Homo sapiens: one gene and its partner. The protein of the gene in region 1 purifies or fractionates together with the protein of each later gene. This does not show direct contact. Each region holds a gene or a part of one and is shown on either strand. Other genes may lie near its edges.

The links.
Region 2: the proteins of MTHFD2L (region 1) and ZHX2 purify together in Homo sapiens (affinity purification with mass spectrometry; one large-scale study listed by BioGRID and IntAct). This does not show direct contact.

The regions. Positions count from the first base shown.
Region 1 is NC_000004.12:74,171,572-74,175,395, reverse strand, and holds part of MTHFD2L (bifunctional methylenetetrahydrofolate dehydrogenase/cyclohydrolase 2, mitochondrial), read right to left. Parts: intron 3,619-3,824; exon of another isoform or gene 1,912-3,618; coding exon of another isoform or gene 1,847-1,911; intron 891-1,846; coding exon 706-890; intron 116-705; coding exon 1-115. UniProt on the Homo sapiens protein: Bifunctional mitochondrial folate-interconverting enzyme that has both NAD/NADP-dependent methylenetetrahydrofolate dehydrogenase and methenyltetrahydrofolate cyclohydrolase activities.
Region 2 is NC_000008.11:122,966,599-122,970,422, reverse strand, and holds part of ZHX2 (zinc fingers and homeoboxes protein 2), read right to left. Parts: intron 1-3,824. UniProt on the Homo sapiens protein: Acts as a transcriptional repressor. Represses the promoter activity of the CDC25C gene stimulated by NFYA.

The DNA of each region.
Region 1 (3,824 bases):
GGTAACTGAACTAATATACCGCTGACTCTTGGGTCCATATTCAATTGATCAGTTACGTCCAAAAGTTCTTCCTGAGAAACATCCTTAGGTTTTAGAATGAGCTCACTACAAATACCTAGAAGAAAAACAGGTAGAGAAGGTCACTTGACTAACTGAATATGGTTTTTCATCAATAGTGTCTGACACAGTGTGGGACTGTTCCTACTGCCGTGAAAGGTTCTGATGTTCCATGCATCATCAGGAAGGATTTCTCCAATAGTACAGGTGTTTCCTCTTGATCCACATGTATTCTTTGGCCTGGAATGCCAGGTGACAATTTGTACTTGTTTGAGATAAGCTACTGTTAGTAGATTTGAAGAGAATAAAAATATCACTACCATGCAACTATTAGGCCAAGTTTAACAGAGTGAACAAGCCAGGTTTATTATTTGATTAAAGCAAATATAATGAAAGCAGGCCTTTTAGATGCAAACTATCCTTTGCATATCTTGCCATAGAATATAAAACACACTGAATTAACCCTATAAGAAATTTGAAGAAAAATCATATGAAATTAACATAAGCTTTGGTAACTGAATAATCTTTAATAATAATACATGCAATTCAAATGGCACTTATTTGATAATTATCATTCATAATTATCACAATTTGAAGTAAAAACAGAAAACATATTTAGTAGTAATTACAACTAAAACACACACCCACCTACAGCAGAGGCAGCTCTTATCTTATTCCTGACATATGTATGGCTTGCTGGGTTATCTCCCACTAAAATTATACTGAGGTGAGGTCTTCTGTTTCCAAGGGAAACCCATGATTCCACACCTCGCTGTATTTCTTTCTGGATATGCTTGGCCATTTCGGTTCCTGATATAATAATGGCTTCATGTCTGTGGAAAGCAAAACAATAAATACTAAAAAGAAAATAAGAAACACTCAACTGCACAAATTTAAGGTACAAAACTCAATAAAACCACCATGATTCTCCAAGCACCCAAAATTTGATTTTTTTTTCAATTATAGTGACACCTACTCTTCAGGTTCATAAATATTTTATAATTTTGTGAAGGATTCCAACTCTGTTATTTAGTTCTACAGTATAATCTATCTGCTATAAAATGAATGTGTATGTCTCTTCAAAATTCCTATGTTGAAATCCTAACCCCAAATGTTATGGTATTAGGAGGTAGGTCCTTTGGGTGGTGATTACACCATGAGGATAGAGCCCTCATAAGTGGTATTAGTGTCCTTTTAAGAAATTCCAGAGATCTCCCTTGTGCCTTCTGCCATGTGAGGACATAGCACGAAGACAGCTATCTATTAACCAAAAAGCAGGCCCACACCAGACACTGAACCTTCTGGTGTACTGACCTTGGACTTCCCAGTCTACAAAACTATAAGAAATTCATTTGTTTTTGTATAAGCCAACCAGTGTACAGTATTCTGTTATAGCAGCTCAAATAGACTAAGATGCTAACGACAGTGTACATTTCTTCACAACTTTCACATACATATATAAAACATATATATTATATACACATATGCATACATATGTATATACATATACACACATTTATGTATTCATATAAATTATCAAACCACATACTCAAGATCTGGACTATAATATTGCCTAAATTTAAAGTTCTGCTATTTTTTCTAAAGAGGCAGATCAATCAGCACAGCCTAGTTAAAACTGGCAACCATCTTGAAGACTGGACTCCACTATGTATACACGTAGCCCCACAATCTTGTGACCCTAAGGCGAAATCAGTTCGTTTTTGGTTAGCATATCCAGCACAAGACTCTGAAGTCATGAGCTTCATACTACACAACTCTTTTAACTTACTCAAAGAAAAATGTTATTCCATGGCCCCAGGCATGGCCCCGGACAACAGCTGTGAGTCTTGCCATGCTTGTCACTGATTATGGTGGGGATCAGGTCAGTAAACCGATAGTTTAGTTCCTTCCCAATGCAATGGCATCATTTCTAATGGAGTAAGTTTCCACAGAAGATTACTTCCTGGCAGTTTATAAGTATTTCAGAAGGTAAGAAGTGCCATAATTTGATAGATGATATAAACTATCTCTGGAAAGGCACAAAGAAATACTTTCTAGAAAGGCTTTTCTGCTCTCCATGACCTCAAACTTGAAAGTGGTGAATTACATTGCTCTTACTGTGTGTTTATTTTTTTAAAGGTATCTGATAAAGTAGAAGGTGGTCCCTTCTTCCTTCTGCCCCTGTCCTTTCATTATTGAATGGCCCGGTAAAAACATGATTACTACAAAAAACATCAAATGTAGGTAAATAAATATTATGAAAAGGAGGAAAAGGGAAAGAGTAAGAAGCAGAAGAGAAAGAGGAGGAGGAAAGGAAGCCCTTATAAACCTTAATTCTTTGTGGTATCTGTACACTTTTAATTTTCTAATGAGGGCGGGTGCTATAAATATCCGACAACACACAAAATGCAAACTTTGTGCTCCTTCCAAATAAGTCAACTGCTCTCTCTAGCAGGTTTGTGGACGTATAGGTAGAACTTGATCGAAAATACACCATTATAGCATGGCACCAGTCTTCCACTGCATTCATCTCAGTTCATGCAATTTTGATGTAAACAATGTTCTGCTAAGAAGCAATTCCAAGCGTGGTCTATGGATACACACATCAAAAACTGCCTGAAATTGCAGATTCCCAGACCCCACAATCCACATCTACAATTCAGAATTCCTGGGGGCAGGGGAAAAACCTGGAAATCTGCATGTCTAATAATTTCCTACATGTGATTCTTGTGTATGACCATGTTTGAAAACCACTTTAGTTTACCATAAAAGTGTATTTTAATAACAATCATAATTTATGAGTAAATAACTGAGCAAATTGGTTAGACAATACAATCACAACTAGACATTCTAAGTAAACTCTACTTTTGATTCTAATTTTGTCTACTCTTCATTAAAATTTTAATAGCTTTCAAGACATGAAATGTCATGATGAATTCAATATAATAATCTTGTTCTGCTGTCTTATTTCTGTAAAAGATTTATTCAGTATAATTGTCATATAATAAACTGGACATATTTAACATGTACAAGTTTAAGTTTTAATATATGTATATACCTGAGAAACCATCACTATAGTCAAGAAAATGAACATGTCTATCATTCCCAAAACTTTCCAGGTGCACCTTTAAAATTTTGCCATTCCACCTGTCTCTGCCAGATTCCACTCCTCAATTCACCATTCCAGGCAACCATTGACCTCTTTTGTTCAGTATATATTGGTTTGTATTATGAATAATTTTATAAAAATTGAATCAAATACTACATACTCTTTTTTGGCCAGCTATTTCCACTCAGCATAATTATTTTTTAATTGATTCACATAGTTGCATGTTTGAATGGTTCATTTCTTTTTTATTGCTGAGTAGTATTACATTGTATGGATATACCAATATTTGTTTATCCATTCGATTGTAATTAATGGATATTCGGGTTCTTTCCAGTTTTTGATCATGACAAATACAGCTGTTACAAACATTTTATAACACATATGCTTTAATATATTTTGTACACATATGCTTTAAAATATTTTTTTTGTGGGGGACAGGGTCTCCATCACCCAGGCTGCAGTTCAGTGGCAAGATCTCGGCTCACTACAACCTCCGCCTCCTGGGTTCAAATGATTCTGATGCCTCAGCCTCCAGAGTAGCTGGAATTACAGACATATGCCACCATGCCTGACTAATTTTTGTATATTTAGTAGAGACGGGGTTTCGCTATGTTGGCCAGGCTGGTCTCGAACTCCTGGCTGCAAGTGATCTGCCCCT
Region 2 (3,824 bases), on another chromosome or scaffold:
AAGCAAGCAGGCTGACCCCCCCATCCGCTCCCTGTGGAGTCTGGCCCATGCAGCATACTCAACAGGCATTTGTCAATGAATGGAAAATGGAAAGTGAGCATAGTGCTGTCAGAGGAGTGGCTGTGACCCAAGGGTGGTGACAAAGTCCACATTTCAGGATTGCTGTTCTATAGAGCATTGCAGTGCTTTGGGCTGTGTGGCTCTTGCTAACTCCCCTGGGCTTCTCTCAGAGTCCTATTACCTGGTCAGAGACAGTCACCCAGCAAAGGGCCAGTGCCTCATCCTAGAGTACCTCTCAGAGCCCTGGAGGATGCTGCAAGGCCATCGGACAGGCATTTCCTTATGGCCTCTGGGACATTTCTACCACGTGATGTCCAGGCTCTCGGTGAACACGTCCCAGGACAGGAACCCACTGCCTCCCACCCTCCCTTTCTGTCTTGGGGAAAACCTGGAATGTTAAGAAGTACTAATTCTTTAGCAAAATCTGCTTCTCTGTTACTTTCCTCATTGGAGAAACAAAAACATTAGAATTGTTTTCCCATGTGACAGCTTTCTGTTTCTGTCTCTCTTTAATTTTCCCAGGAGAACTTTCTCTAGGGCCCTAGGGACTTGGGAGTGAGTAACACTGCACTCCAGGAGAAAGGAAAACAAACACTGAGAGAGTGATTGATTATCTCTCCATAACATTTTTTTTGAGAGGTGTAGCAAGGTTTATTGCTCATTTGCCGAGTGCCTGTTATCTGCTAAACATTTTGTTCCATTGTCATCTGGCTTCTATTTTTGATACGGACAAACCTGTCAGTTTAACTGTAGTTTCTCTGTAGGCAACGTCTTTTCTTTCTGGTTGCATTTTTTCCCTCTTTGCCCTAGCTTTATTGACGTATAACTCGTTTGCAGAAAGCCGCACATAATGGATGTAATTTAGTGAGTTTGGGCATATGCATACACTCATGTTACTGTCACTACAATCCAGTAACAAACATAAAGTTTGCTTGTGTCTATTTTTGGGGGGGGCAGTGGGGAGGTAAGGATATAACATGAGATCTGCCCTCTGAACACATTTTGAAGTAAATATCTTCCTATTAACTACAGGCACTATGTTGTACAACATACCTCCAGAAGTTACTCATCTGTATAACTGCAACTTTACACCCATTGTATGAAAATTCCCCACATCCCCCTGCCCCATCCCCTGGTCAACATCACTCCACTGTCTATTTCTGTACTGCTCCATAATATTTCTCTCTCTCTCTTTTTTTTTTGAGACAGAGTCTTGCTCTGTCACCCAGGCTGGAGTGCAGTGGCATGATCTTGGCTCACTGCAATCCCCACCTCCTGGGCTCAAGCAATTCTCATGCCTCAGCCTCCCGAATGGCTGGAACTACAGGTGTGTGCCACCACACCCGGCTCTAATTTTTGTATTTTTAGTACAGGTGGGATTTCACTATGTTCGCCAGGCTGGTCTCGAACTCTTGGCCTCAAGTGATCCACCTGGCTTTGCCTCCCAAAATGCTGAGATTACATGCGTGAGCCACTGTGTCTGGTCTGCTTCATAATATTTCTTTTTCTTTTTTTTTTTTTCCAAGATGGAGTCTTGCTCTTGCTGCCCAGGCTGGAGTTCACTGGTGCAATCTCAGCTCACTGCAACCTCTGCCTCCCAGGTTCAAGTGATTCTCCTGCCTCAGCCTCCCAAGTAGCTGGGATTATAGGCGCTCACTACCATGCCTGGCTAATTTTTGTATTTTTAGTAGAGATGAGGTTTCACCATGTTGGCCAGGCTGGTCTTGAACTTGTGACCTCAGGTAACCCACCCGCCTTGGCCTCCCAAAGTGCTGCGATTACAGGCATGAGCCACCGTGCCTGGCCTGCCTCATAATATTTGAGTTCAAACTTTCATTTCTTTTATTGAGGGTAGGGGGCACAGTCTGATTTTTAACTAGAATTTAAAAAGGGGAAATGTGTTGGACTGGAGGAAGATTAAGCAACTTCCCAGTGGATGACAAAAACTCCGTGCCATCCCAAATTGTCTGTACACCAGGCTTGAGTCAGTTTTGGCCACATCCCGCCAAAGCTCTCCTTCCCTGCGTGGTTTGAAGGGCCTCTAGGGTTGGGGAACTTGCTGAGACCCACAGGCCAGGTATATATTCCTCAAGCTGCTTGCAGGGAGGCTCAGAGACAGTAGGAATGCCTTTCCTGCTCCTGGCCTATCAGTGCATATTGGCCAGGGGAATTTAATAGAACCAGAGCAAATGGAATTGTATTTTAAACTCACTGGGCAGATTCCCCAAAGTGCTTACATGTGTGGGTGTAGGGGTGGATTTGAATTCCAGCTCCACCACTTTTTACCTCAAAGACTTGCACGAGCTACCTTTCTGCACCGCCTTCTCATCAGCCCTAAATAAAGAAACTAACATGAAGCCCTGCCCAAGGAGAGTCTGAGCTCAGACTCGCCTAACCCTGCCCCCACCTGATGGTTTGTCTCTACCTGCCCTGGTAGCTGAAGAAAAAAGACATAATCTTTTGGAAGTTCTGTGGTCCTGTCCATTGCCTAAGAAACCCGAGTACTCATCCTGGCCAATGTAGGGCAGAATTATATCCCCTTCTACTACTGCAGCTGGCGCTTTCCTGAAAGCACCACCTCCCGGCTGGAGGCCAACCAACTCAAGCCATTACAGCAACTCATAACAGAACAACCTTGCTTCAAAGGAGCAAACAACAGCTAATGCCACTGCCTGCAACATCCTGGCTAACCAGAGGTCCTGAGTCTGTCCATGTGGCAATTTTACTGCTGGTGTAACCAGCATTTGAGAAAACCACTGCACTAAACAAAACTACAACCAAGGACTCCCAGAGTCCACTTCACTCCCATGCCACCTCCACTGGAGCAGGTGCTGGTATCCAAGACTGGGAGACCTGAAGATGGATCATATCACAGGACTCTTTACAGACATTCCCCAGCACCAGCCTGGAGCCCAGCAGCCCCACTGGGTGGCTAGACCCAGAAGGGCAATAATTACCACTGCAGTCTGGCTCTCAGGAAGCCCCATCCCTAGAGAAAGGGGGAGAGCAACACATCAAGGGATCACCCCATGGGACAAAAGAACCTGAACAGCAGCCCTTGAGTTCCAGATGTTTCCACTGAAACAGTCTACCTAAATGAGAAGGAAACAGAAAAGTAATTCTGGTAATATGATAAAACAAGGTTCTAAAACACTCCCATAAGATCACACTGGCTCTCTAGCAACGGACTCAAACCAAGATGAAATCTGAATTGCCAGAAAAAGAATTCAGAAGGTTCATTATTCAGCTACTCAAGGAGGCACCAGGAAAAGGTGAAAACCAATTTAAAGACATTGAAACAACAATACAGGATATGGATGAAGTCTCTAGAGAAACAGATATCATAAAGAAAAGACAGTCACAACTTCTGGAAATGAAAGACACATTTAGAGAAATGCAAAATACACTGGAAAGTTTTAACAACAGGATCAAACAAGTAGAAGAAATAGCTTTAGAGCTTGAAGACAAGGCTTTTGAATTAACCCAACTTGACAGAGACAAAAACTAATTAAAAAAAATGAACAAAGCCTCCAAGAAATTTGGGATTACGTGAAATGACCAAACATGAGAATAATGGTGCTTCTGAGGAAGAAGAGAAATCTTAAAGTCTAGAAAATTTATTTGAGGGAATAATCAAGGAAAACTTCCCTGGTCTTGCTAGAGATCTAGATATCCAAATACAAAAAGCTCAAAGAACACCCAGGAAATTGATCACAAAAAGATCATCACCTAGGCACATGGTCATCAGGTTATCTAAAGTCAAG